7 linked regions of the Homo sapiens genome follow. The protein of the gene in region 7 purifies or fractionates together with the protein of the main gene of each other region. This does not show direct contact. Each region holds a gene or a part of one and is shown on either strand. Other genes may lie near its edges. The genes, in order: TARS3, IARS1, ARHGEF2, LARS1, ANKRD28, RIMS1 and SDCBP.

The links.
Region 1: the proteins of SDCBP (region 7) and TARS3 purify together in Homo sapiens (affinity purification with mass spectrometry; 4 studies listed by BioGRID and IntAct, with this or other methods). This does not show direct contact.
Region 2: the proteins of SDCBP (region 7) and IARS1 purify together in Homo sapiens (affinity purification with mass spectrometry; 3 studies listed by BioGRID and IntAct, with this or other methods). This does not show direct contact.
Region 3: the proteins of SDCBP (region 7) and ARHGEF2 purify together in Homo sapiens (co-immunoprecipitation; one large-scale study listed by IntAct). This does not show direct contact.
Region 4: the proteins of SDCBP (region 7) and LARS1 purify together in Homo sapiens (affinity purification with mass spectrometry; 4 studies listed by BioGRID and IntAct, with this or other methods). This does not show direct contact.
Region 5: the proteins of SDCBP (region 7) and ANKRD28 purify together in Homo sapiens (affinity purification with mass spectrometry; 4 studies listed by BioGRID and IntAct, with this or other methods). This does not show direct contact.
Region 6: the proteins of SDCBP (region 7) and RIMS1 purify together in Homo sapiens (co-immunoprecipitation; one large-scale study listed by IntAct). This does not show direct contact.

The regions. Positions count from the first base shown.
Region 1 is NC_000015.10:101,703,642-101,707,940, reverse strand, and holds part of TARS3 (threonine--tRNA ligase 2, cytoplasmic), read left to right. Parts: intron 1-2,193; coding exon 2,194-2,258; intron 2,259-4,003; coding exon 4,004-4,082; intron 4,083-4,299. UniProt on the Homo sapiens protein: Catalyzes the attachment of threonine to tRNA(Thr) in a two-step reaction: threonine is first activated by ATP to form Thr-AMP and then transferred to the acceptor end of tRNA(Thr).
Region 2 is NC_000009.12:92,262,478-92,266,776, reverse strand, and holds part of IARS1 (isoleucine--tRNA ligase, cytoplasmic), read left to right. Parts: intron 1-1,223; coding exon 1,224-1,297; intron 1,298-1,653; coding exon 1,654-1,848; intron 1,849-3,721; coding exon 3,722-3,808; intron 3,809-4,299. UniProt on the Homo sapiens protein: Catalyzes the specific attachment of an amino acid to its cognate tRNA in a 2 step reaction: the amino acid (AA) is first activated by ATP to form AA-AMP and then transferred to the acceptor end of the tRNA.
Region 3 is NC_000001.11:155,967,982-155,972,280, reverse strand, and holds part of ARHGEF2 (rho guanine nucleotide exchange factor 2), read left to right. Parts: intron 1-2,980; coding exon 2,981-3,125; intron 3,126-4,299. UniProt on the Homo sapiens protein: Activates Rho-GTPases by promoting the exchange of GDP for GTP.
Region 4 is NC_000005.10:146,123,195-146,127,493, forward strand, and holds part of LARS1 (leucine--tRNA ligase, cytoplasmic), read right to left. Parts: intron 3,352-4,299; coding exon 3,241-3,351; intron 893-3,240; coding exon 788-892; intron 1-787. UniProt on the Homo sapiens protein: Aminoacyl-tRNA synthetase that catalyzes the specific attachment of leucine to its cognate tRNA (tRNA(Leu)).
Region 5 is NC_000003.12:15,682,477-15,686,775, forward strand, and holds part of ANKRD28 (serine/threonine-protein phosphatase 6 regulatory ankyrin repeat subunit A), read right to left. Parts: intron 3,834-4,299; coding exon 3,746-3,833; intron 3,644-3,745; coding exon 3,526-3,643; intron 2,970-3,525; coding exon 2,750-2,969; intron 1-2,749. UniProt on the Homo sapiens protein: Regulatory subunit of protein phosphatase 6 (PP6) that may be involved in the recognition of phosphoprotein substrates. Involved in the PP6-mediated dephosphorylation of NFKBIE opposing its degradation in response to TNF-alpha.
Region 6 is NC_000006.12:72,246,173-72,250,471, reverse strand, and holds part of RIMS1 (regulating synaptic membrane exocytosis protein 1), read right to left. Parts: intron 2,458-4,299; coding exon 2,345-2,457; intron 143-2,344; coding exon 12-142; intron 1-11. UniProt on the Homo sapiens protein: Rab effector involved in exocytosis. May act as scaffold protein that regulates neurotransmitter release at the active zone.
Region 7 is NC_000008.11:58,573,288-58,577,586, reverse strand, and holds part of SDCBP (syntenin-1), read right to left. Parts: intron 1,688-4,299; coding exon 1,526-1,687; intron 1-1,525. UniProt on the Homo sapiens protein: Multifunctional adapter protein involved in diverse array of functions including trafficking of transmembrane proteins, neuro and immunomodulation, exosome biogenesis, and tumorigenesis.

The sequences.
Region 1 (4,299 bases), on a different chromosome or scaffold from region 7:
ACAGTATTATCAGTTTTGTGGGCTTGAATAAAAAAATAGAGTTGGTTTTGGTAAAAAATTGCAGTATTCTTTTTTGTGCAGTAAAATATATAACATATAAAATTTACCATTTAATCCTAAGTATACAGTTCTGTGGCATTAAGTACATTGACAATGTTGTCAAACCATCACCAATCTCCAAAGCTTTTTATCTTGCCAGTCAGAAACTCTATACCCATTAAACATTAGCTCCCCATTCCCGCCCTGCCCCCAGCCCCTGGCCACCACCATTCTACTCTCCGTCTCTGAATTTGGTTCCTCCAGGCACTTCATATCAGTGGAATCATGACAATATTTATCCTTTTGTGACTGGCTTGTTTCACTCAGCAAAAAGTCCTCAAGATTCATCCATATTTTAATATTTTAATGTGTGTCAGAATGTCCTTCCTTTATAAGGTTGGATAATATTCCATTGTACGGATAGACCACATTTTGTTGATCCATTCATCCACCTGTAAACACTTGGGTTGCTTCTGCCTTTTGGCTACTATTGTGAACAGCGCTGCTGTGAACATGGGTGTGTAAAGTTCTGTTTGAGTCTCTGCTTTACTTCTTTTGGGAATATACTTAGAAGGGGAATTTCTGGATCCTATGGCAATTCTGTTTTTAAGTTTTCGAGAACTCGCCATACCGTTTGGTGCAGTGGCTACACCATTTTACAGTCCCACCAGTGATGCACAGGGGGTTCAGTTTTTCCACATCCTTGCCAACACTTGTTTTGTTTTTTTTTTAATCATGGACATCCTAATGGTTGTGAAGTGGTATCTCATTGGGGTTTTGTTTTGACTTGCATTTCTCTGATGACGTACTAATGGTGAGCATCTTAATGTGCTTATTGGCCATTTGTGTATTTTCTTGAAGAAATGTCTTTGGAGAAATGTCTGTTGAGCTCTTTTGCCCATTTTTTAATTAGGTTTTTTTGTATTTGAGTTATAAGAGTTCTTGATATATTCTGGATATCCATTTCTTAACAGATATGTGATTTGCAAATATTTAATTCTGTGGGTTGCCTTTTTTGCAGCTACTTTTAAGAACTAAACACAATTAATCTTTGTTAAGGAAAATGATTTGTTGTGAATATATAGATACGAAACAGTTAAATCATGCAGATACGGGTTTTTCTCCCAACAACTAGCTTCTTTAAGTAGTTATTTAATATAAAGTGCCTTGTATACCCCGATAGTAGTGATGGAAGCAGAAAAGAAAGGAAAAGGAAAAAAACCCTTAGTTTTATAAATATATCATCATTACGATAAACTTTGCTTTTGTTTTTATACAAATTAATAATATAGCTGTGTCCTTGTCAGAATTTTATTGATTAATGTTAAAATTAGATCTTCTAGAACAGTACTGTCCAATAGAAACATAATGGAATCCACTAGTCTGAGCTACATGTGTAACCTATAATTTTATGGCAGCTACATTTTAAAAGTAAAAGTTGCAATTAATTTTAACAAATTTTTAACCCAATATATAAAAAGTATAATTTCAATGGTAGCCAGTATAAAGAATGATTAACGAATGATTTTCTTCTTCTTTTTGCAACATTATACTTCCAAAGTCCAGTGTGTTTTATACTCACTGCACATCTTCTTTCAAATTAGTGGCATTTGAGGCCAGGTGTGGTGGCTCACACCTGTAATCCCAGTACTTTGGGAGGCCAAGGCAGGCGGATCACTAGAGGTCAGGAGTTTGAGACCAGCCTGGCCAACATAGTGAAACCCTGTCTCTACTAAAAATACAAAAATTAGCACATAGTAAAAATACAAAAATACAATACAGGCATGGTGGTACATGCCTGTAATTCCAGCTACACGGGAGGCTGAGGCAGAATCGCTTGAACCAGGGAGACGGACGTTGCAGTGAGCCAAGATGGTGGCACTGCACCCTAGCCTGGGTGAGGGAGTGAGACTCTGTCTCAAAAACAACAACAACAACCACAAATTAATGGCATTTGAAATGCCCAGTAGCCACGTGGCTTGTGGCCTCCATGCTGCACGGTGTCGCTCAAGGCTGTGAGCTCTTTGTATCCCTCGTGTCTCAGCACCTAGAACATCAGTAGATGACCTTTCAATGTTTCTTGAAGAAAAGTAGAGTTGTTTTCTTCATTTCAACATTGTGTGTAATAATGTGTAAATATGTTTTTCTTCGTAGTACAATAAATTTAAATGCCGCATTCTGAATGAGAAAGTTAACACTGCAACTACCACCGTGTACAGGTTTGTGTCCACACATGGTAAACGCTGCTCAGTGGTAAACTTGAAGGTGTTAGCAGTAGAGGCCGAGTTTGTTTTCTGGTTGGAGATCGATTTTTCAAGTTGTGTAGTTGATAATCTACCGTAGTTACAATCTTCAAAATGTTTTCACTAAAGAGAAATGATTATTTTCCCCTTTTTAGTAATCAGGACAGTACTGAGACCCATATTTTGTTTCCTGGGTGTTAGCTATAACAGGATTTTTCTCCATGTGAGTGATACTGTTGGGAAAGGAGTTTCTATTCTGTCCTTCCACGTTCTTATTAATGTGGCAGTGGGGGCCATTACAAGCCATCTCCTCGGCAGTGATTCTCTGCCTCATACTTACTGTCCAGAGTGCAAGTGTAGAAGAGTCTGCCCCATTGTCCAGAGTCCAAGTGTACAGTCTTCATGCATTAGCAGGATACTCATGATGAGACCAAAAGAAAATACTGGGAAACAAAGGCAGGATCAAATGTAAGAGGAGACAAGTGAAGTTAATACCAGAATCACTTAGCTCTGTTCATTTAACCTCAGGTTCCTGAGCACCTTTTTCTTTATTCGTGTGTATACGCCTTATATGTCATTGCTGTTCCCCTTTCCGTGTGTTCCGGCCATCTGGGTGCTGCTAGGACTATCACAGTACCGCCTTAGAAGACCTGGTATTTATTTAATTATAACCACAGATATTCTCCCTCATGGTACTTACTTTCGACAGTCAAGGACTTATGGTTCTCTGGTTTAATTGTACTGTAAGTAAAATCATATCCCCTTTGTGCAAAGCTATGCACGGTGCATTTCTTAAAGCTTAAAAATAAATGAAAATGTAGAAAACAGGCCAAGTTTTAAATTTCTGGCTTCTAATGCTTGAGCTCTTGGGTTTGAGAACCTTACTTACGTCAACATTGACACTTTTTGTAGTTTTTCAATTTGAATGGCTTGTATTTAATTTTTGAAAAAAAAATAAAGCTTTTCTTTTATGGCTTTCTTTTTTTTTTTTTTTTTAATTTTTTGAGATGGAGTCTTGCACTGTTGCCCGGGCTGGAGTGCGATGGCGCGACCTCGGTTCACCGCAACCTCTGCCTCCCAGGTTCAAGTGATTCTCCTGCCTCAGCCTCCCAAGTAGCTGGGATTACAGGCGCCCACCACCACGCCCAGCTAATTTTTTATATTTTTTATTAGAGACAGGGTTTCACTATGTTGGCGAGGCTGGTCTCGAATGCCTGACCTCGTGATCCACCCGCCTCGGCCTCCCAAAGTGCTGGGATTACAGGTGTGAGCCACCACACCCGGCCCTGTGACTTTCTATGTAAAGATTAGAGTATTGAAGCCTTTCATGCTAATTTGGCATTCCTTCCCTTCATCTGAGTGTTGTTTACAAGCTCTCTCCCTAGAGAACAATACACAAAGACTGACCATTGAGAGAGATGACATTTTCGTGTTTGCCACTCTGTAAGCCAGTCCCTTTTTGTATTCATTGTAATTTTTAAGTTTTTAATCAGAGAATTGCCTAGTTTCTTTCAGAAGATGTTCTGTGGTTTTTGAATCTAGAGGGCAGAGTGGACTCTGAGGCTAGATGAATCACCTCTCTCCTTCACCCTAAATTAAAAATGGCATTGCTACATATAAATAAGTGAAGCTCTACCTAAAACATAGGATATTATGGCTTATAATGAATAGTCCAGAACACTGTAACTGTGCCTGAGCATGTCCTAAATATTTCATTATAGGTGCGGTCCATTAATTGACCTTTGCAAAGGTCCACATGTAAGACACACTGGAAAAATTAAAACCATCAAAATTTTTAAGGTAAGGATTGATTTTTTTTTAATACAGTAAACTTAAGGTGCACTAGCTATTAAAGGATTTTAATCATATCTTATTCAATCATATCTTTTGTAGTCTGAACATCATGATATTTTAAAATATTTCATTCTTATTTGATGAAAACTAATAAAATCATTTAGAATTTTGATAATTAGAACACTATAGGTGGCTTTTGTTTATCATTTTACCTTATTGTAAG
Region 2 (4,299 bases), on a different chromosome or scaffold from region 7:
GCCAGAGTATGCAGAAATCACATGGCAAGAGAAGAAACGGGCGGTGGGGTGGGGGCAGGCTCTTTTCAACAGTCAGCTCTCACAGGAGCTAATAGAGAGAGAACTAACTCACTGCAGAAGGAGAGCATTGGTCTCTTCACGAGGGATCCACCCTGTGACCCAGATGCCTCCCATCGGGCTCCATCTGTCAATACTGCCACACTGGGGATTAAATTTCAACTTGAGATTTGCTGGGGACAAACCATATGAAAACTAGAGCATTTACCATTGTGTTACAGTTGCCTGCAGAATTCAGTACAGCCACATGCTGTACAGGTTTGTAGCTTAGAAGTAATAGGCTCCACCATATAGCCTAGCTGTGTTTTAGGCCATCCCATCTAGGTCTGTGATGTTTGCCTAAGGAAATCACCCTAACAATGCATTTCTCAGAATGTATTCCCACCATTAAGCACTGTATGACTATAATTTAGCTCTAGCTTTTTCTTGGGAAGATTCTAGATTAATGAGCCAGATTCAGGTGCCAGGAGGAAACTAAAATGCCTTAGAGAAATAATCTAAGATGTTTCACTTATGCCAGTTACTTTGACAATTTGCACATAATAAACCCTTAATATCCATTGAGAGTATGGCTATGAATGTTTAAGATTCTCTCTAGGTAGGGACTCCCTCTGATACTGGGGTGGAAACAGAGGAGCAGTGGCAACCCTGGCCTCTTCAGAGACTAAGAGTAGGCTGTGTCTTTCATGAGAGAGAAGCCACATTAGCAAATACTATCCTTCGGCCCAGATTGGTGTGTTAATGTGCCTTTAAATCATCAGTCTCAGGCTGGGTGGCTCACGCCTGTAATCGCAGCACTTTGGGAGGCTGAGGGTGGCTGATAGCTCGAGTCCAAGAGTTTGAGACCAGCCTGGGCAGCATGGCGAAACCCTGTCTTTACTAAAAATACAAAAAATTAGCTGGGTGAGGTGGTGCCTGCCTGTAGCCCCAGGTACTTGGGAGGCTTAGGTGAGAGGATCACCTGAGCCCAGGAAGCTGAGGCTGCAGTGAGCTGTGATTGTGCCACTGCACTCCAGCCTGGGCAATGGTAGTGAGACCCTATCTCAAAAAAAAAGGAAAAAGAAAATCATCAGTCTCTCAAAGTAAACATGCATGCTATATAAATTAACTCAGTATGCTCTGTTTGGCTCTAAGGAGCTCCTGCTATTGAACTTTGTTTTTGACAGGTGGTATGCATTGGGTCAGTGGCGGAACTTGAAGAACTGTCAGGAGCAAAGATCTCAGATCTCCACAGAGAGAGGTCAGTTTCTAAATGTTCGATTCACTTCAGTTTTACGATTCTCCTATTAAGACCTGGTCTCTAGCAGATTACAGAGCCACACATGGAAGTGACTAGCTTGCTGAATTACTTTGCTGATGACTCATGTCATATTGCAGTATTGTGGCCTCTGTCCTTGTGAAATGTGAGGTGAATGGTGCATAACCTTTCAGATGGAGGATTCATGGTGCTCTCTGAAAGCCTTTGAGAATTGCTGATATTTCTGTTTGCAAATGTGTATAATATCTTGTCAGGGTTTTGTGTTTCCTATTAGCAATTAAACTGCAAGTTCTGTTATGCTTACAGTTAATAGAAATGACTACTTTTCTGTTTGTTAGTGTTGACCACCTGACCATTCCTTCACGCTGTGGGAAGGGATCCTTGCACCGCATCTCTGAAGTGTTTGACTGTTGGTTTGAGAGTGGCAGCATGCCCTATGCTCAGGTTCATTACCCGTTTGAAAACAAGAGGGAGTTTGAGGATGCTTTTCCTGCAGATTTCATTGCCGAGGGCATCGACCAAACCAGAGGATGGTATGCCTCCTTGTTCTTTCATCACGTGTTTTATTGATTTTATTTTATTTAGGGAGTATTTTACTAAGTCACTGCCATTTATCTACTGGGTGATGGAGAGATTGTGGCAAATAAGACAGGCTACATTCCTGCCCTCTCCCCTCCACCACCAAGCACGGACATTAAAGTGCCTTTTGAGTAGGACTCTCCCACTACAATAGGGCTGTAGTTTTACAATTTCAATGATCTCACTGGCATTTTGGAATATATGTGTTACACTGGATGTTAAAATGATAAAAAAAGTTATGTGTTCTTAGCTTACGTCAGATCATTTACTCAAATGTTTGAGTATTTGCATAAAAGACAGTAGTTTGGGTGCTAGAAATTTGAGGGATAGTTGGTAATGTGCTCAGATATTGAGGCTAGCCTTATAAATCAACATTCTAAAAAAATCCAGATTTTTAAAAAATATACATATGAGAGAGGATTTGGGCATTGATTTTTATCTGGTGCCTTATGTAAAACAGTTCCTTAATTGGAAGAAGGTGAATTACTTTCTTTCCATGGATTGGCTTTGCTGGCCCAGGCTTTATTTACTTTTTTTTTTTTTTTTGAGACAGAATCTTGCACTCTGCTGCCCAGGCTGGAGTGCAGGGGTGTGATCTCGGCTCACTGCACCCTTCGCCTCCTGGGTTCAAGCAATTCTTCTGCCTCACCCTCCTAAGTAGCTGGGTCTACAGGCATGCACCACCATGCCCAGCTAATTTTTGTAGTTTTAGTAGAGACTGGGTTTCACCATGTTGGCCAGGCTGGTCTCGAACTCCTGACCTCAAGTGACCCACCCGTCTCAGCCTCCCAAAGTGCTGGGATTACAGGCGTGAGCCATTGCGCCCAGCCCAGGTTTTAATTATACATTCACAGTAATGTTTCTGCAGGGGTGTGTTAAAGGAATTGTTGGTGTCATTTTCTCTCTTTGACAGCTTTGGGTAATCATTGAATTCAAGTCTTCATGTTCTGGAATGTGCTGTCTTCAGATTCCAGTCCTTTTTGTCTATAGGAACAGCTACCCAGCACAAATTCTGTTTTTAGAAAGGGGTAGATGCCTTACCAATGAGCTTGTTCCTTTGAGGAGTAGCAAAGTCTGTTAGCTGGTAACAGTCCTCATGTGGATCCCGTGTCCTTGGTGCCTGCCTCCTTCTCCATTCCTGAGGCCTGGGCTACCTCTCCTGGGCACCAGGGCTCCTCCCAACTCTCCTTTAGAAGTGGGAGGGATATCTGGATCAGTGTTTATGTTAACTATGGGGTCTGGTCTCCTCAGCTCATGTCCCTTGATGTTCTCAGAGTGCAGGACTAGGTAAGAGAGGCAGGAAAGCATCACCCCCAGGACAGTGGTCAGGGATATGAGTTCATTTGGGAAACAAGCTAGGTAGCACATAAATGAGGTACATAACATTTTACAGAATAAAAGCATTTTCTAGTCTGCCTTATCACTTTTGGGTGAGAGTGCATTTTGCATCTTTTGTCATCAAATTGTCTTTTCCATATGATCTTGTGCCAAATTCAAAACCCATCCTTCATCTTCAGCTAGGTGCTTCTGGGTGGTCCTGAGAGGCCACCCAGTGCTGCCATGTGGCTCTCCACACAGACTTCCTGGGAGCTCTGGTAACAGAGAAATGGTCAGTAAATCATTCCAGACGTTTATTTCAATGCTTCTTTCAAATCTTAGACAGTAATTTGATTGGTCTCCAGTAACCAGGATTAAGAATCATTGCTTTAAGTGATTCTCAAGAAGTGTGACTTATCAAAAATAGAAATTCAATGAATAAATACAGTTTCTTTCTTATGCTTGGACTTCATTTCTATTTTTATTGAACTGTTTGGGGTTTTTTTTCAGGTTTTATACCCTGCTGGTGCTGGCCACGGCCCTCTTTGGACAACCGCCTTTCAAGAACGTAATTGTGAATGGGCTTGTCCTGGCAAGGTAGGTCAACTTTGTTGTAGTGACGGGTGGAACTTTGTCTCCACTGTTTCTTAAGAAGGAGTGCGTGAGAGCGGTCAACTTTGTTGTAGTGACAGGTGGAGCTTTGTCTCCACTGTTTCTCAAGAAGGAGTGTGTGACAGCTAAGCCTGATGGAGGAGGAGGAAGGGGAGGACTTTCAGATTGTGCTACTGCTAGTAACATAATGCTACTAGTGATATTACTAGTAATAAAATAGCATTTACTAAACTTAGCACTTTATGAAATACTTTTGCTTATAGATCTTATTTAATCTGTACATCAGTCCTTTCATGTAGATTTTGTTGTCCTTTTTTTAACACACGAGGAAGCTGTGGGTTCTAGAGACCACAGGTGCCCAGGATCAAAGCTAGTGACAGCCACACTGGGCTTGACCGAGGTACTCTGCCACCAGATCCCATTCTTCCCCTCATCTGAAACTTCCTCCCAATGGGCATTATTTCCCACATTTTGCT
Region 3 (4,299 bases), on a different chromosome or scaffold from region 7:
TAGAGCAGGGGTCACTTCGAGAGAGGGTGAGTGTTGGGAGGTGGAGGAGGCAGGGCCCAGAGTACCAGGGCTGTCTGTGGAGCATTGATGCCAGAGAGAGGAAGGGCCACTAGAGACCCTGTTCTCTGGCTGCCCCAGTCTTCTCCCTCCCTTTGCCACTCCATCTGAGCTGGTCAGACAGATGAGTGTTTGTGGATGCCACAGGGGGAGGGTGGAGGGCAAAGGACAGAGGTCAGGTGTGGAAGAGAGTACTCGTAGCAGCACTGGGGCAGAGCTGCAGCACTGCCCATTCTGGAGTGACCCTGGTCCAGCCATGTTGTTTTTTTTAATACTATTTTCAGCTTGCTTGCTTTTACTTATGTGTGTATATATATATATGTATATATTTTTTTTTTTTATAGAGATGGGTCTCGCTGTGTTGCTCAGGTTGTTCTCAAACTCCTGGCCTCAAGCGATCCTCCCACCTCAGCCCCGCAAAGTGCTGGGATTACAGGTGTGAGCCACCTCACCGGCCTCTTGCTTTTAATTCAAATGTAATACATGCTCAAACTTTTGGTTTGAGTTATATAGAAGGCTGGGAGGGCAGGAGAGGAGGAGAAAAGGGAGAGTATATGGCAGTGGGAAGAGATTTTTGGACTTGGTGTTTGAGGTCCTGTGAGGTTATTATTCAAAGGTGAATTTGAACTTCTTTTTTTTTTTTTGAGACATAGTCTCACTCTGTGGCCCAGGCTGGAGTGCAGTGGCCCAATCTCAACCCACCACAACCTCCAACCTCCCCGGTTCAAGCAATTCTCCTGCCTCAGCCTCCCAAGTAGCTGGGATTACAGGTGCCTGCCACTACGCCCAGCTAATTTTTTGTATTTTTAGTAGAGATGGGGTTTCACCATGTTGGTCAGGCTGGTCTCGAACTCCTGACCTCAGGTAATCCACCCGCCTCGACCTCCCAAAGTGCTGGGATTGCAGGTGTGAGCCACTGCACCCAGCCTGAATTTGAACTTCTAAAGAGGTATAATTTGGTGCAAGATAGGTGGAGGTTAGACCAAAGGGAGCATTTTCTAGTGGTCCGGGTAGGTAGGTGCCAGAATAGAAAAAAGGAGGCCAGAACATTTTAGAGGTTTGAGTTAGAGGCTAGAGGCAGCTCAGCTTCCTGAATAAGCCTAGGTAGAGGAGCAGTTGGCCTGCGTGAGGAGGAGGGGAGGAGAGGCTGTGGGCGGGAGAGGAGAACAGTGGCGGAGAAGCAAGGCTGAGAAAGGGAAGGCAGAGCGGGAGGAGCCTAGGAGGGAGACCCTGAGAAGAGAAGGGAGGACATAGAGAGAGCAGGAGACAGGAGGAGGATGCGAAAAATGGATGATTGGGGATGGGGAGGATGCATGAGGGGAGAAGGGATTGACCCCAAGACCTCTGGGCTCTGGACATCATCAGGCAAACCTGGAGCTTGGGAAGAGAGGCAGGAAAGAGAAGGATCTTGGGCCCAGGCACTGCAGCCCCATGCCCTCTGTCCCTGCACTGTTGACTCAGCCCCTCCACACTTCCCCTTTCTTTCTACCATTTTCTGCCCCAAGCACCAGGCCCGTGCATCTCTTCCCCTCCTCCACCTCTCAGCTGCTGGCGTGGCCTCGTGGCCTCGGCTGAGTCAGTACTGGTCTCCTAGAGTCCGGGCTGAGTGCTTCCCGCTGAACTGTAATCCTCTGTCCCCAGTCCAGGTCCTCTGACTTGGGGCTTCTACCCTCAGCCATCTGGATCCTGATTTTTGATTTCTGAGAGCCTGGGAAACCTTGGAGGGAGTGGTCTTCTCAGCTTCTAGTCCTGCTCCAAGAGCGGAGGGAAAATCCAGAGATCAGAGTCACAACTAAGGAAGGTCCTAGAATAGTGGGAAGAGTGATATCCCCCTCTTCTCACCTTCTCAGGCTTTTTGGGAATCACAGGGGCTTGAAGAGGGACAGATTGGAGGTCAGGGAGAATGACTTGACTTGCAGAGGCAGGGGCACTGGGGGAAATGGGAGACAGCAGAGATGGAAAATGCGGCTCAGAGGCTCCGAGGAAGGTGTGCGCCATCTGCGGAGATCAACACTGAAGGATGGAGGGTAGATGTCAGAAAGGACTTCCTAGGATGGGAGAGACCAGTTGGGTAAGGAGCAATAGAGGAAACTCTCCTAGGTTTTAACTCTGGAAAGTAGTATGAGAGGGATAAAAGTTAGACTGCAGGAGAGATTTTCCGCTGGAAGCAACCAAGATGGCTGGCTGAGCTTCCTTACTTAAAGATCCCAGAGTGGAAGAGTGACCCAAAGGCAGCTAGCTGCCTTTGCCTCAAGGTTAGTAGGGGACATGCTGCCTCCCAGACAGGCCCTGTGTGCCGTGGCTGAGGGTTGGTGAAAAGAGTTAGAGGTCTGGGATCCTGACCCCTGGGTTGGGGGTGGCAGGGGAGGCATTCTGCCCCCTTCAGCCAATCTAATAAGGGGATCTCCTGCCCCCCCCACTGTGACTGCCACAGAGACAGCAGATCCAACACTGGTTGTCATGGTTATAAGAGGAGCTAACTCCCATAGATTGGAAAGCGCTGGTGAGCTGGCACCCTCCGCTTCGCCTGCTCTCCCCTCCTCTCTGCGCATCTTCCCCCTAGCACAGAGAAGAGAGTACAGCAGCTCGGGGGTGAGCAGAGCTAGGGCTGGGAAGGTGGAGTGAGGACGCAGAGACCTAGAGCCAGGGAGATGAGTGGCAACAGGAGGCAGCCCAGCCGTAGGGGCCAGGTAGGTCAGGGACCCAGAACCCATCCGGGCTGGCTGCCCCAGAGCCTGGCCTGGTCACTCCCGGACAGCTGCCTCTGACACCCAGTTGCAGGCTCTGCTTTAGGAACTGGTGTCTTTCCAGCATCCTCAGGCTGGCATTTTTTCCTTGCCTCTGCCCCCAGCCTGTCTCTCTGGACTCCAGGCACCCTGGCATTTTCCAGCCTCACTTCCTCTCCCTCTCATCCCTTCCACAGACCCGGGAAAAGGAGAAGATGAAGGAAGCCAAGGATGCCCGCTATACCAATGGGCACCTCTTCACCACCATTTCAGTTTCAGGCATGACCATGTGCTATGCCTGTAACAAGAGCATCACAGCCAAGGAAGCCCTCATCTGCCCAAGTAAGTTGTTTGGACCCTGAGAGTCACCCAGACTCGGTGCCCACTGACCCTGATCTTTTCATCTGTTTTTTCTGCCTGGATCCATGAGGGTCACTCTTCTCTCTGATCCCCAGCTGGGCCCAAATGCCAGGGCCAGTTGCTTGATCCCTTGCTCCCTGTCCTCACTCTGAGGGGTGGTGGCTGTTGGAATATGGCATAAGCCGGACTATCTGGGAATGTGGGGGAGGGGAGGCTGTGCTGGCTCCTCTTGCAGCTGTCATCCACCAGGCACCCCCCTTGCTCCCCGAACAGCTGCTAAGGGTTAGGGGAACTGATTGGAGAAGGAGCAGGAATGTTGTATGTGTGGAGGGGGTGGGGTGGGGGGTGACAGAGGAACTGGGTGGAAAGCTGCCAGCCTTGCAGCTGGCTCTGCCTGTCTTCCTGCGCAGAGCTGGGCATTCAGGACTTCACAGTCCCCTTGCCCCTTTCTTTCTATTGACTATGGGTGGAGCCTGAAATCTCTGCTGTTTCAAGCAGAAGATGTGATTAGGACCCTTCATCTCAAATTTCTAGTGAGAAAGAGGGAATGTAGCAGGGATGTGTGTGTTGAGGGGCAGGGGTTAGAATTCCTGCCCTTCATCCACATCTGAGTGTAGTCCTGTCTTTAGGGAGTATAAGCCAGGAATTCTTTCCTTCCCCAGTACACAGAGGGCTCCTGCTGCCCCCTCTCCCTCAATTCCTCCTGAAGTTATGGCAGAGATGCCTCTGATTAGAGCAGGATTGAAGGTATTGTGACCTGCTACTGAATAGCGGACAAAAGCTCTAGCCTGTAAATCCCTATGAAACTTGGGGAAGGAACCCCCAGAAAGGACCAGTGATGGGCAACCCGCTCGGGTCCCCTTCTACGCTGTGGGAGCTTTGTCATTTTGCTCTTCACAATAAAGCTTGCTACCGCTCAAAAAAAAAAAAAAAAAGAAAGAAAAGAAAACCAGTGAAGCCTCCCTACTTTCCTCACTGTTCAATTTAGAGTTGTGAGGATGAGGAGGGAACCCCAATCTAGATCCCTATAGAGACCTGACAAAATTCCCAATCCGGAAGCTTGTTGCCAGGGGAACAGGGGAGGCGGGCAGCACTATTTTGAGAGCAGGTGGAAAGCGGAGGTTCAATCCAGAGACACTGAGTGTTGGGGGTAGGA
Region 4 (4,299 bases), on a different chromosome or scaffold from region 7:
TTACTTAAATTCCAAACCTATATTTTTTTTACTTGAGTGTCTTCATTATTACTAGGACCACTTTTTGAGTGCTCTAACAGTTTTCTAGAGCACATGACTTTTCCTTTTGCCTAAGTTGTCTGAGACCAGCTTATTTACGATCTATATATAAAGTTGTGAGTGGGGCACAAAGATTGGATGGGGAGAACGTCACAGATATATAAAAGCTATTGGTACTGTTCTAGTTCCTGGATTGGGTAGAAAATTCAGGGATGTTCATTTTATTATAAATTGGGAGGAAAAAAACACGGCAAGACATGGAACAATCATAATATATCATGAACCAAATCATAATATATCATGAACCATAATATATCATGAACCAATATATCAGTGCAGCAATTCTAAACCAAAGATTATAATTAATCCAATTCTGCAAATCAAAAGGGAGGGGGGAAAAAAGGCAACAATTCAGAGTACTCCATAACATGAGAGGCTTGGAAAGCATTTGAATATAAGGTCTCTTAAAAATAATTTGCAGTAGAATAGCCAGATATACAGTTTTTTAATGTATAATTGATTATATGTAAATTAAGAATTGATGAAATAAGATGACATATCACTTTTTTTCCTGCAACTTTTATACTCACCCATTTTTCTTCTCTCCAAAAATATTTTCGACTAATATATTTAACAAAGATACTAAACACAGAAGATGAAATTTATAAAAAGGTTTATTATAAAATAAAAGAGCTGGATTATGGTTTAACTACAGTTAACTGGTTATTACAATCCCTGGCCCTCTTACCTCAAGCGAATTAGTCAGATAGACTATATTCTCCATAAGCACAGCCTTTTCATCAAATTCTAATTGCAAATCCAGAATACGAGGCCCCATCTTCTCCAGATTTTCCTAATAGCCAAAATGGTATGGAAAAACAAAATCACAGTAAGAATATGTTGGAAAACATACTTCCTCCAAAGTAATCATTCTTCTCTCAACTGATAAAATCTTCAGATTTCAGGAGTTAAAGGAAAGGCCTTGGACTCATGATTTCCTTTACCTACATTTGCTTGTTAATGAAATTTACTAGCTCCAAATAATTATCTTTTAAAGTATTATAAGATTATGGCAGCACTGAAAAGATGGGAAGGCACAAGGTTTTCAGATTTATAAAATAAATACGGTTTTATGATTGTTTATTTAGACTGACTTAACATGCAAGCCCAAAGAATTCACTTTACAGGGAATCAGCCAAATGTGTGAAAATATCCCTTTAAGTTACCCAAAAAAAACAAAATTTTAATTTTCTGAGATACCACCTTCTTAAAGCTGTTTCAGAGAATAGTGAATTAATAATATCCAAACAAAAAATCCCCAAAGATATTTCTGCAAAGTTTAAAGAAAAAAAACTCATACTACATGAGTACTCAAACATGGCATGTAAAAAATAATTTCTTATTCTTAATTTTCTTGGGTAGTCAATATTTGCTGTGCAAAATAGAATCCTAGAGATCCAAGTACATATGCAGATATAACTACCTAGAACATGTTATACTTAATGAAAGTGACCTGATATTATTCCTGCTACTCACTGTTTTCGCTTACTATGCAAGTTCTATTTCTTTTTCTCATGGAAGTGCTAGAAAGTCATTTTCTTATTCCCAGATGTATTAATCCCTTCCAAAATTTGCAAAACCACTAATTTGCCTGGCAAATCACCAACATAATTTTAAAAATATATTACCACTCAAACGGTCTGATGCTGGTTCTTCAAATTTAAATGAGATCCTAAAGAAGCCAACTCTTGAATCTAATATCATTTTATACACACACACACACGCACACACACACTCTATATATATATACATATACACATAACTACTTTTCAAATAGGTTTCCCTGGATTCTTTTAAAACATGTCATCAAAATTAATTGCCTTTGCAACCATCAATGGAATATTTTGTTGGATCCACATGTTGACAGAGATTTGGCATTATGACCAATGACACTAGCCACTGGGGAACCAACGAACTATGAACATACCAGCACTTACATTACAACTTGATTAGTGTAGGTCAACACAGGATTCTAAATTACTTCTGAAACTTAAAATACCCTGAGGATCAAATAGTGACTTTGGTCTAAGAGAATTAAAAACCTTTTCCAAGAATACTAATCTATTATAATATTGAAGAAGTTAAGAGGTCTGGTCTCCATCAGGCATCTGCAGCCAAGAAGACACAAGAATTAAAGGACAGTACAAGAATAACTACAATATGCTTAGTAGGCTGGAAGATACTAATTTGTATTTTTAAACAACATTTACTGAGCCTACTTCTTGACTAGTGCTACTTAAGTGTGTTAGGTACACTATTTTATTTACTCCTCACAGCACTCCTAAAAAGTTTGGTTCTATAGTATCCTCATTTTATGGATGAAAAATCCTGTAGCCCAGAAAATTTAAGTGATTTGTCCAAGGTCTCAAAACTAAGGAGTGACTGATACACAGAATTTCAACCAAGATTTTTCTGGCCCCATAGCCTGCGATCTTAAGCAATATAAGCCTTCTTTCGGTTTCTTTTTGTCAAGAAATCCAGTAATACATCAGCGACGTATATGAAGAAAACTAAGGGTCTAACCCAATAATTCTCAATGGTAAGAAGTGGAAGGTGATTCTGCCCCCAGCGGACATTTGGCAATGTCTGGAGATATTTTTCATTGTCATAACTAGCAGGAAAGGTAGTTCTACTGGCTTCTAATGAGTAGAAGCCAGGGATGCCATTACATATCCTACAGTGCACAAGAAAGTGCCCCACAAGAACTATCTAGCCCAAAATACCAACAGAGCTATGCTGAGACACCCTGGTCTAACCACTATAACCAATGTTTACCCTGTTAAGCTATACCTATACAAATGTTGAATCCTGGTTCCAGGAATAGGGTCTAGGAAATGCAAGCCTCTATAAGCCTAATGTAAGCCAAAAGAGTTTGAAAGAAGGGAAGGTAGAATATGAAGGGAATAGTTCAGTGCAGCCATTCTAAACCAATTTTTCTCCCACAATAATATTTTTCACATACTCAGCAATTCCACAAGTAAACCCAAAATCTGATAGATCATTTCTCTCAGTCATTGATTGAAAAGTGCTATTTTAGCAGATTTCTGGCAGGAGACTATGTCCAAGGCTTTTCCCCATCCTTCTATTGTCCCATCTAACCATTGCTCATGTGGTCACAGCTGCATAAGGTCCACAGCTTACCTTAATCATGGCAACAAATGGCATGACTTTCTTCATGTATTTCTTCAGTTCTGGCATACTGCCTAGTTCACTAGCAATGACTTTGTTGTCAGGCAGTTTTCCGTTATTGGCCTAAGAAAAGGAAGGAGGGAGAGTAATGTAGAAAAAAAAGTCTCAAGAATAAGGCAGAACAGTAGATGTGACCAGGCATAGAATGGTGGCCTCTATCAATCCTTAGAGAACAGCAGAAAAGTGTCCAGCCCTAGCATCACGGGGAAGTGAAAGCTCAATGAACAATGCAGAAGGAACTCTCCTATTCTCTATAAATTAACAACACATACTTTTTAGTTTAGAAGAGAAAAAGAAGTGATTTGTGTTGAATATTTCTCCTGTTCAGAAACTAAATGGTCTCATAAAAACTTGTTTTCAAATTTCTAAAAGCATTTTATTAGTCATATTAAAATAAAAAATTACACAACTATCATACAAGTTTATATAATGTCTGCTTTTGGACACTTGGAAGAAACTGTTACCACAATTGTGAAAAGAATCCCTAGCTACTGACCTGTTAAAAACAGAATCATTTCTATCTACTCAAAAATAAATGTCCATATCATATATCACTGATGAGTACAATCCAAGTGTGCTTTAAATGAATCTAAATTCATTTCTTTCTACAAATATTAACGGTCCCCTCAATAGAGTGAGAAATAAAGCAACTGGTCTTTTCAAAGTTTTGGGCAACTTGTTTTCTCTTTATTGTAAAAGAAGGGTTGGGAATGAATCTAAATGAAAAGGAACATATAATACAATTTCAAATAATCTATTTTCAATTCTAACTTTTACTAAAGTACATGGGAAAAAAATATTCTACTTGTTAATATATTCCTCTGAAACACACGAAAAAGAAAAAGGGTGGGAAACACTCCTTTGCCTTATGTCACCAAAATGGTGCCACATTCAACATAAGAACACTCTTCGTGATTATAAATGAACATTCTTTTCATTCCTGTGGATGAAAACATACAAAAATCTAAAAGACAGCTGCTAATGCCAAAAGATACCACTGTTTTCAATTAT
Region 5 (4,299 bases), on a different chromosome or scaffold from region 7:
GGTCCTCCTGAGTTTCAGAGGCTAGTCTGAGGATGTTTAGAGCTTCATAAAAATGAACACATTTTTTAAAGGAATAATAAGTATTCTTAAGTTCTGTGATTGAATGACTATATAAACTGAAATTGTGAACTTTTAGTATCTACAGCCAGTGTTTTTCTAAAACTTGGCCATCATTTCATTTTAATTTTAAGAGGTTGTTTTCTGTTCTGTTGGCATGCTTCCACTTTTCTTTCCAGCTGTACAATAATTACTAGTTAAAGTAAAAACCATTTTACATATTCTACTTTCAGAATGCCAAATTATAAAACGGGCTTTTGGCTATAAATATGGTATTAATTTTAGGCTGTCTATATAGTCGCTTATTGCATATAGCCAACACACATTAAATTCCTTCCAGCTCAAATTCAGCATCACCACAATTTTGCTACAGGCTGAAAATCAGACACATTTGTTATGATCTTTAAATGGCAACCAGGCATGCAGTTCTTGCAAAATTCTGTCTCTTGCACAAAACGTGCTTAGAGTCTAAATTTAGCAGTGATAGAGTAGGAACTCACTTTAGGGAAAATGTTCTACATATAGATCTGATAACAAACACTGTAATAGAAAGCAACTCTCCAAAGGACAGTTACAGCAGTACATTTACAACTAAATGCTCTTCCTGAGGAAAAATATCTCACTGTGTGATTTTTCCAATGGTTAATCTTCAGGGATATATTTTTTTAAAAACCAAGCAGTAAGTCTTTGCTTCTGAACAGTTTTATCTCACTGACTTTTTTACAGAAACACAACTCACAATTGTAGATATTTTCCCACTATATTAGATATTTTGGGTTTTCCTTATACTTGTAAAATGTCAAGTCACATTACAGAAACAAATCAAACATCAATGGCAAAATACAGTATCTTCTTTGTTCTAGTATGAGTACTAGTCTCTGGCCACTTCACTACACTCATTTCTACTTGCCTTAGCGAGTAGAAATGGGAAAAAGAGAAGTTAAACCCCAAAGGTTTTATAGTTTTCAAAACTGTTTTGGTTAAGGATTTAAGGTAGTAAAAAACAAAGAGACTAAACTAGCTTGTTCAATGAGCAACAGATTTAACTATTCAAGTTTTTATGGTGCTATCAGTACTCAGCTGAAGGATAACCAACAGTATAACAGGACAAACCTCAAGAACCCAAAATGTTCTAACGGCAAAAGAATACAACTCCCAACTTTGGCATAAGGACTAATATGAAAATCAAAATATTGTATCTCAGAAATACTTGTGGAAACATTTAATGAAGTTATAATTTTACAAGATTCAGCTTTTTCCTCTTTTGCTTTAACTTGATAACTTTGTCAGAACAGCTCCCAGTGAAAGAACTATGAAACAGCATATTATAGAAAGATAGGAAATCTCAACTTCCTGGTAAGGCAGTCTGATTTTACAACAGATATTATACTTATTTATTTTTAGCAAATGGGTATTTATATAAAGAGACAACTTATATTTTCTCTGCATTTTGAGGGAAGGTTATTAGAATTGTGAACTACAGCTTTGTAGATCTGCTGTCATAATTAACATTAATCTTGAAGCTACACTGAAATTGAAAACAAATTTTAAAAACCTCTAATTTCTCTACTAAAGCCTGAAGCTTGAACTTTGACAACACTGATGCTTGCACTGTATATAATGTACTTGAGTTTTCTAAGATGATCAAATCTAAAAATATCTCAACATGCTTCATTGCATAAATTATTTTAATTAGTGGCATTTCATAAGCCAAACTGCATTTTTAACATCTATAACTTCAAAGTAGCTTTATGCTTCCCTACGTGACCTTTTATGAGTCTACCTATAAAAGCGATGACTGTGACTGTGAGCCTGTAGGAGGCCAAAGAAAATCTCTTTTAACCATGTAGCAGAGTTAACCCATCAAAGTTTCTAATTCTAAGACCTGCTAGGGATTTATTCCTTTAAAACATTGAACATGGATATTACTGGTAATATAAGAATGTTATCTTGCAATGTGCTCAGAAAACATACATAGATTTCAGTTTAGAATGTGATACATCTCACTGTTTCTCCTACTTTTGGTTATTTTTCCCCTAATATGATTGTATTTAGAAAGTAAAAGAACATGGCTGGGTGCAATGGCTCATGCCTGTAATCCTAGCACTTGGGGAGTCTGATGTGGGAGGATTGCTTAAGCCCAGTTGTTCAAGACCAGCCTGGGCAACATAGTGGGACTCTTAAAAAAAAAAAAATAGTAAAAGAACACAATCAAAATACAAGCACACTATATAAAAGCAATGGAAACATTCTAAAAACCTCCTAAAAATGCAAAATATTTGTGGAAATAAGGATCTAAGAAAAACTTCAGGCTACATGGTGGCTCATGCCTGTAATCCCAACACTTTGGGAGGCTGAGGTGGGAGGATCACTTGATGCCAGGAGTTCAAGACCAGCCTGGGCAACATAGCAAGATCCTACCAAAACTAAAAAAGAAAAGAAAAGAAAAGAAAAACCTCAAAAATACTTCATGGCTTATCTCAGAACACCTTTGACAACTAGTGTCTTGGCTTTAGCATGACAAAGGACAGGAGTGAGCCTACGTACTAAGTATTATTAGTACGTGAGCCTATACAGTAGATTATTCCCAAGGTTTTTGCTAATTTTAAACTTAAAATTTGCCTTATAAATATGTCATTCTTTTATCTCTGTTCACTACACAATGATATGCATTTGTGTTTGTATACTTAACCATTGTAGCAAGCCCAGTGAAGTGCCGTATATCCATGATTGTCTGCTGTGGCTGGATTTGCATCCATAGATGCTGCTGACTGCAAAAGGGCTCCAAGAACACCAATGTGTCCACAGGCAGCAGACAGGTGTATAGGCGTCCGGCCCCTGCTATCCCGAAGTAAGCACTTAGCACCATGTTGAAGTAATGCATCTACACATTCTTCATGGCCTGTAACTGCCTGAAAGAAAATAATTTAAAGGTAGTCAAACATATTATGCTAAACATTACATGCCAATTTCAGCTAATTAAAAACTTTAAAGACCATACTCTCCATATCCTTCCATCAATTAAAGCCATTTATCATTTTATGAGTAATTCTGTATTTTTATTGGAAGTGGTTTAAAAATTCAGTTAAAGCAAGAACCCTTCTAAAATGCAAATAGTATGAAAACAGGAAGAGAGAAACTTGGTATTCAATGAAAATAATGATATTTCAAAGGTGAAAAAAGATTAAAGTGTATAAGAAAATAAGTGAGATAATGGAAAAAGTCAAATTGACATTAATTCTACTAAAAGTTTTAGAGTTTTAAAATTTTGTTCTAACATTGTTCTCTAGATTAAGTTGTACTCTGTAATTGTTCAAAATTAGCATTTAAAAACTAAGATACTGAAAGAAATGGTAAAGACTATTTGACGAACATTTAATGAAGAAAAAATAAACATAACCTAGTTCAGTTCTAGGTAATATGAGGTCATAAAAGCTTTTTGAAAGGAAAGAGCATATTTCTGCTTACCCCTCTATGCAACGCTGTCCTTCCCCACTTATCTTTGGCATCTACATTTGCTCCTTTGTTCAGCAATGAGTAAACACAGTCTGTGTGCCCGTTGAGAACAGATAGCATCAGAGGCGTCCTGAGCAACAACAGGAATAGGTTCAGTGCTGTCACTTAAGACTGTACTCTGGTTTTCGAAATACGCCCTTCTGTGATGCAACAATTATTTATCGAAACTTACTGTCCATTTCCATCTTGAATATCCACTGCATTCTGTGGTTCTGCATTTCCTATTAATAGCCGTAAGCATTCTGAATGACCATTTGTTGCTGTAAAGTGAAATTTAAACATTTCAGTAATTACATATAATGATAAAATAGAAAATGTCCATCTAAAAGCACATCTTCTAGAATTTACTTTTGGGATAGTTGCACTGAATTTAATATGCAAGAATGAAAACTATAGGTAAAAAGAAGGTTTCTACGGCCTTTGACTGTTAAAGCTGGAATAAATGTGAATTCCTCACAGTAAAACATGACAGGCAGACCGCCTACCCAGCACCCATGCCCTATCATCTGCCTCTAAAAGAATGCTCATTTTATTTAGCTCTCTGGCAATGTGGTCAGGAAGAGTGCCTTGACTCCAGCAAAGGGATGATACCATGATTAGACCAAGTCAATCACAAGAACCCCATTCTCCTCTGACAGTGATCAGTTTTAAGGTGAGCAGCACAGGAACCAGGTCTGACTACTGAGATGCCGATAAGTCTAGAGGCTGCTGGGAAATACTTTTATC
Region 6 (4,299 bases), on a different chromosome or scaffold from region 7:
TTATTCACTACCTTCTATCTGGAAGAAAATACATTTTTACATAGGGATTTCGAGGACGTCCATCTACTCTAGCAGGTAGATCTGTTGCTTGCAGAACATTTACAATCAGCTGGTGTCCCACTTTATCATACCACAACTTCACCTAGGAGCAATGAGGAAAGGAATTATTTGTAAAAATCATGAGGCATTACAATTTTACATAAAACAAAATTCAAGTTATATTTAAATGAGGAAATTTTGAATTACAATATAATGCAATTACAGATATTTCTAAAAACACACCAATTTGAAAGCATAAACACACAGAACTTTACTTTTCTCTTTGAGTACTTTAAACATAACCTACAACTGGCAGGCCTTCAGTGTTACTGTATATTCTCACATATCATTTTATAAAATAAAACTAATAATAATTTTTCCAAAAAACTAAGGGAAGAGGGAGACATAAAATCATTATTATTGTTCTTAAATGTTAAAAATAAGAGTTTGAAGATTATATGTGTCTAAATTATTATAGCGTGACTAAATGCTTTCTCTGGTGTCACAGGTAGTTAAAATTAAAAAAAACAAGAGTTTGGATATTAGGAATAAGAAATACAAAGAATTAGAAGAGATCATAAAACATATTTACTGTGGGCCTATTTTATACAGGCACCGTTTAGTATTTCCTGGTATTTTTTCTCACTTATTTTTTTATTTTTTAGAGACATGGTCTCACTCTGTCACAGGCTGGAATGCAGTGGCATGATCATAGCTCACTGCAGCCTCAAACTGCTGGAACCAACAATTCTCCCAGTTCAGCCTCCCAGGTAGATGGAACCACAGGTGTACATCATCATGTCTGGCCAGTTTTTTAAATTTTTTGTGGAATCGGGGGTCTTGCTATGTTGCCAGGCTAGTCTTGAACTCTTCAGTCTCTCAAAGTGCTGGGATTAAAGGTGTGAGCCACTGCACCAAGCCGTCATTTAATTTTTAGAATTAAACTATTACAGGTTATTTTTCATGAGAGAAGGAGGAAAAAACTAAGGATACAATACACAAATGACATCTTCAAACTACAAGAAGGCCAAATGATATTTCTATTAACCAAGATTTCATGACAGTAGACCAAAGAATAATGGGGAAGTAACGTACTAAAATCCTATTGTCAAACTCACAAGAATTGGAATTTTATCAGTCATTATTACAGTATCTGCCCTGGCAGTGGTGATGACACTTTAACAATGTTAACTTTAATTTTTTTCCTTTAATTTAGAAGTTACTTTTCATTTTATGTTTAAGTAAGCATATGCTGTTAATAGGTATATGTTAGAACATATTTGAGAGTCATTAAAACAAAATAAACTAATTTAACATAGGATTAGCTTTTCATGGTAAGGAACAGATTAAGAATTCAAACCTGGATCTGTGTAAATCCATTTCTCTGATTCCCAATTGATACCTAAGATGGGGTTTCACAGAACCAGAATGGGTTTCCATCCTCTTTCAAAATATGTGGAGAATATGAGAGATTTACACATACACTGAAGAAAAAGATGGCCGGCAGATAAACCCAAAGGGTATTACAAAGATATTCAATATACTAAAAATAAAAGTTAAAACCATAAAAGCCCTTGAGCAATAAGCTTACATATATCTTCTCTGTCTCATTAAAATCAAGAGAAAACCACAAAGGCAAACCACAGAAATCCACACATTATCAGAGGAGCAAAAGGTCATTATTTGTGTAACAATTTGAAACAAATAGTTTGAAGTCCTTAAATTATAATATCAACATCACATTTTCCATCATAATCTACAAATATATGGTTCTTCATTATCCTTAACCCTAGTTTCTTCACTCCAGGTTTCCCCAGATCACATAATAAGGCAATAGTGAGAAAATGGTAGCTTTTTCAGAGAGCTTTCAGTGGCAACGAAGAGTTTTGCCAAATGCCTTAGGAAGTTAAAAAGAATATTCCAAATTTAGGCTCTTCAGGCTCTAGGCTCATAAGGTTATTACATAAATGGGGTATGAACTCCTAATATTATGTGTAAACAATTATTTACCTTAGAAACTTTTACATAGCACACAAAAAATATGAACTCTTTATTTACTTATGTTACCATTCATCAATTAATGTTCAGAGTATCTGGCACACTGCAAGCACTCAGTAAGTATTTCTGAATAAATATGTGAATAAAGGAATAATAAAAAATGCATGAAAAACTAATGAAGTAGATTATGGTGTTAAATGACTATGTATTTATTGCAGGCTTCAAGGAAAGGCGAACATATTTAAAGACAGACTCAGACAGTGTATGCAAATACTAACAGCCTCCAACATGTACAAAAAATACATACAGAAAGTTGCCCTGGTAAGACTTGTGGGGCATCTTTTAGAGCTCCAGGACTTGTTGGAGAAATAACAGAAATGGAAGGCCTTTCCATCTTCTGAGATTCAAAGGAACTTGAACCTAAAATGAGAAAAAAAAGTAAGTAATATTTGTAAGTGTAGGAAATATTTTTAATAAAATGTTAAATGCATCCTTTATTTGTATAAAACCATAATTACTATCACTGATAACAGAACCTACTTTTAATGGGATAGATTGTCTTTAGTTGTCTATTTAAAAAATATTAAGAATGATATAACGAAGTATTATGCTTATTTCAACTGGAAAGAATTGATCTACATTTCTGGAGTGCATGGTATTGCACAGGCTCTTGCATGACTTCACATATGGGTAAAGGTCTGCTTCAGAGATAAGGAAGATAGTGCCTGTTAACACTAATTATCTTGGCTAATGGATCATCTATTATAAACTGTCCTTACTGAGAAATTAAAATGAATGCATACATAATATAATTTATAAGCCACATCTAAGCCAAGACTTTGCCACTGTTTTAAAATCAGATATACCATCTATCTTAGGTTTTTTTTTTTTTTTTTTTTGAGACAGAGTTTCGCTCTTGTTGCCCAGGCTGGAGTGCAATGGCATGATCTTGGCTCACCGCAACCTCCACCTCGCAGGTTCAAGCAATTCTTCTGCCTCAGCCTCCTGAGTAGCTGGGATTACAGGCATGCACCAACACGTCCGGCTAATTTTGTATTTTTAGTAGAGACGGGGTTTCTCCATGTTGAGGCTGGTCTCGAACTCCTGACCTCAGGTGATCCGCCCACCTCGGCCTCCCCATCTATCTTAGTTTTGATCTTATAAATGAGTATCCTGAACCTCTGAAAATGCTGCTTCAAGTAATTCACCACTAGTGATTTGTTTCAACTTCACATGGAGGAGGCTGGGTCTCCTCTCAGCCACTTGGTGGAGTTCTTCACTGTTCCAAGTATACCCTGACACAGAGAGCAATACAGAGTGTTTATAGAAGGCTATTGATCCAGCAAGTACAACCTTGAACTCACCACCATTCAAACTTAGCCAATGCTTCATTGAGAAATACTGTTTATGAAGCATTGCCTGAGTATGTGCAATCCGCACATTTTTTTCTATAAGTACAAATTAATTCTCATGTCATCCTTTTGTGCCCTCCGAAAACATTTAGTGATAAAAAACAGCTATATAAAATTGTTACTATGTGTCTTTTCCCAGGTATATTTAAAATACATTTTCCTTAAGTCTCAGAACAGGAACACTGTTATTTCTAATAATGCTTGTTTGTAATATTATGGCAATCAGTGTATTTTTTAATCATATCAATAATATAAATTATGCAATTAGTCCCACTTCCCTCTTTGTATTGGTCACCAGAAAGCTCAAAGCCAAAACTGGGTCCACCTCTAGCAGAACATGATGGTATGCATTTTATATGATAACCTAGTGTCTGTTTCCTTGTTTATCCTACTTTCATATTTTCTTCTCCCTTCTAATCACTATCACTGGTTTTCCCCTAAATCACCTTTTATTTTCTATTTCTTTAACTTGGGTTCTGTAAGAACACCTGGGGAATCAAGCCCAAGTATTAACTTAATTCCCATCCATTGCAAAGTAAATATTTGGGTCACTTCTGCATTATCATTGAAAACTTAATTGTCTATATTTTATTGCACACAATATCATCTTCTGTCATACAGAAACGACTTAAATTCCCATATAGATAATTCTTTCAACCCTCTGGTTTCACAATCTCTTGACCTATTATGTTTAATGAAGTTTACTCCACCCATTCACTTCCAAAATCAATCCACACACTTTGTTATTCAGTAATACAATTATTTGTTAAAGTGTCTACCTAGTTTCTTCACTAGGCTGCTCTTGAGACTGAGCTGCTTAGCAATCAAACTGAATAATCCAGTATCACAA
Region 7 (4,299 bases):
AATGACAGTTTAAGGTCATAATTCTACCTTTTGAGCTGAAGCATTCCTTTACCCATTTGCTAAATTGTGTATAATCAAGTAAGATTAAAGTTTATTTGTTAGACTAAAAAGATGGGCATATTAAATCCACATGCACAGGCTTATAAAGAACACACAATGAAATAAATACAGAAAACTCAAATACTGTTAACCAATAACTACACTCACATGGATATTTTTACTTATGTAAAATCTCAATCAGAAGTTGAACAAAATATAAATAGGTAAGTATAAAAGAAGAATAAGCCTGGTAAAATATAAGTGCATCTACTTCTACAATCCTAAGCTAGGTCACATATTTCTATCACACATCTGTTACATTGTAGAATGATAAGCAAGAACTAGGTAGCACCCCATAAATGAACAAATGCCCTTTGGCCAAGTGAACAAATCCACTGCAACTATTACCTACAGTGGGGCCAAGGGGCCTATGAAAAGTATCTTTTCTCTTTAGGACAGAGGAAAGAACACAAGAGCAATCCTGGCGGAAGGAGCAGCAGTATACTCTATTCCCTGAAGATTCTGGAGAAAGGGCAGCAAAGTCAGAGCATCCCAACTAAGCACGCAGATGTATTTTGAGTGACATACAAGTGAGCAAGGCCATCATCGATGGCCTCAGCCCCCTGGGTGGGCAGGCAGGGCGGGGGCCTCCTGCCAAGATCAGCCTCCTCCATTTACAGCAGTGCACCACACTTATAATTTTCTATGTGGAAAGGCTGGATGCACTAAGCTAGAGATGTATGACTGAAACCGAATCCAATAAGGTAATGGCTAAAACTATAAATTGGGGTAAAGACTCAACATGTCCTTCACAATTATAAATGGTTCCTCAGAGAGTAACCCTGTTTCATATCTTCAGTATGTTAAGGTGAGAGGTAATTATAAAGTAAAGGCTGCCCTAATTAGAAAGAATATTCCATCTTTTTTTACTCAGAAAATGACATATTAAATTCAAATGTGAAGGATGTTAATAACAAATCTGCAAAAACCATCTCACCAGTTAAATACTGATCATTTGGTTTAAAAATGCACACACATCCGGGAGGCAGAGGTTGCAGTGAGTCAAGATCACACCACTGCACTGCAGCCTGGCGACAGAACGAGACTCCGTCTCAAAAAAAAAAAAAAAAAGGCACACTGACATTGACTCTCATTGGAAAGTTTTTTCTTAACCTTCACATCTGCTCTATTTAATTGCCACAATTCTATTATACAAACTATAATATATGTAGGCCAGTGAAATGTATTCCAGTTAGAATATTCAGAAAAGAAACATCTTTCAAAGTAATGTGGTCAGAAGTCCCAACTATGCCTCTGCAAAATAGAACATCCCCAATTGAAAACATTTAAGTTAGTAGATTTAAAATATTCTCAACTACAGATGCACTATTATAATTAAAGCATTTCCATTTCAAATTATTTTAACATTAATCACTTATTATGTAAGAGATTTAGACAAATTCAAATAGGTATTTAAAATACTTACATTATCTATTGATTTAAGCCTGAGTCCAATTTTTCCATCTTGATCCTTACACAAAATGACTTCACGAATCCCTTGCTTAATTTCTGCTCTACGAATTCCAACATCATTACCAGTTACAGGAGCCACCATATAGTTTATACTGGAAGGTCTTGCTACCAACTGCTGACAAAACCATATACAATGTGTCAATATCTAGAAACACTCTCCTTGAAAAAAACAATGATAATTAACTGGAACTTACTCAGTTTTGGCTTTCCAAAAAGCAATCCACAAATAATTTCCTTCCGATAAAGTTTGATGTCTATGAAAATGGCACTGGCTCTACTACTAATTCTTCACTAACTTATTCCCACACATATCATCTCTAATAGATTCAATGACTCTCTGTTGCCCTTTGAATTCACTGGCATTTGTTTCACCGGTATACTGGCTTGTCTTCATCTCAAATTTATTATCTTTGAACTTAAAGGCCATATACTTTTGAAACATTTTCCAGACGGTTCATGATGTCACGATCTTTGACAATCTACTTATCCTTTCAGAATTTCCATAAAAGGGGCAAATTTCTTACCTCACTGTTACTGACAGGATTAAATGAAAAGTGCATGTTGTATGGGCACTGGCACACATAAGACAGTCAACTATTATGTCTCTTCCCCTCTAGTAACCATCTATGGATTAACAAATCATATGCACAAACCAGAATGCCCCAGAATACCTACATTAGGGACCTGTGTCATATACCATGTTTCAAGTTTCTAATTCTTTCCAGTTTTCCTAATCAAAACTGGTTTATTTTAAGTGGAACCTTTCCCCAACCAAAAAGAAAATGGAATAATATTAGGCCACTAAAAAAAGGAAATCCTGCCATTTGGACAACATGAATAAATGTAGAGAATATTATTCCAAGTGAAATAAACCAGACACAGAAAGACAAGTACTGTCTGGGTCCCACTTATATGTGGAATCTGAAAAGAGTCAAACTCACAGAAATAGAGAGTAGAAGGAAGGTTGTCAGGGGCTGGGGTTGGGCAGGGCAAAGAATGAGAAAAATGTTGGTCAAAGTGTACAAACTTTCTCAGTTATCATATGAGTACGTTCTGGAGATCTAATGTACAGCATAGTAACTATAATTAATAATACTGTACGGTATACTTGAAAGTTGCTAAGAGTACATCTTAAGTGTTCTCACCACACACCAAAAGAAATGTAACCATGTGAGATGACAGATACGTTAATAACCCTGACTGTGGTAATCATTTCACAATGTGTGTTTGTGTGTGTTTATCAATACATCAAGTTGTATTGATATATACAGTTGAATATATACAATTTATATTTGTTAATTATACCTCAATAAAGCTGGGGAGAGGAAGATCCAGATGGAACATCAAGAGAAGAAGAATAAAATATGTGAAATGAAAAATTCACTAGATATGAAGAGATAACAGAAATCTCCAGCAACAAATTAATTTAAAATAGAACAGAAGAAAAATAAAAGGCGGCGCACTGAAGAACCCTGGAGATGCAGACACAAAAATGAAGGTTATATCACCCTTCTAGGTATTTGGGCAAAGGGATCTAAGCATCCATGTAGTGAACAAAGGAAGTTCTAAATTTTAACTACAGCCTCATGATCAGTTACTAAAATAAGAATCAGAGCAGCTATGACTCTGTTCTTCTTTGTATTTGTATATTTTCTGTAAATACAGCAATTAATCTTTCTGTTCCTCTATACCTCTTTTTACCTTTATGTATGAATTGTTGGTAGTGGTTAACTTTACACTTTTGCCTTTAAATTAAAAATATTCTGTTGGGAATGTGAATACTTAGAAGGGTAATTAGTATCATATAGTAATCAATACCATGATGACTGCCCAGAGATGGCCACATTAACTGGTATCATCCCTTTCTAGAGAAAGGGTGAGAGCAACTTCATTTATATTGAAGGGTACATGGCTTCATTTTGTACACCCCTGAGTTAAAAATGATTTTTATATTTTTAAAGATTGTAAATAAACAAATAACAATAAGAATATGTGATAAAGATCATAAGTGACCATGAAAGCCTAAGGTATTTATTATGGAGCCCTTTATAAAGTTTGAACTTTGATTTTATGAAGAAATTCATCTTTCAAGGAGAAACTATAAAGTTGTTGTTGTTGTCACATGAAATTCAAATGTTTGTACAAGTGTGTGGATATACTGAGTAGTCAAAGGAGTAGGTGGTAACAGATATTAAACTACTGTTTGTCAGCTCCAAATCCACCCTTCTAGACTCTACTTGGTGATGCTGGGCCTAACTGTGCAAATTATAATTTCGTTTGTCAGTGACTGGAATGACAAGCACCTCATTCCTTCCTGTGTGCCTCCTGCTCCTGTCAGTACTGTGTAAGCCTGGCCCTTTACACTGGCAGCAGCAGTTGGTTCCAGTCTGCAACTTTTACTGACACTCCCAGAACCAGCCTCATTACAACCCCTCAGAGGCACTAGTAGTGTCCCCTCATCCAAGGTCTGAGTCCCAGCTCCGTGGGGCTCTTCCTCAAGCTTCTAGGTTCTGCTAACTCCAATCTCTCTCCTGTGTTATCCCAGTCCTAGGAGAAGCAGCTAGCTATCTGCAATTACATCTATGTCCATTTATGTTTTTTTCAATTTTTCAACCTCTTAAAATACCTACTATTATTTGTTTTCCCAACTGCATCACCACTAACACAAGCAAGTTTTCAATAAATATTTGGTAAATACATAAATGCCAGGTACTGTATATGCATTGG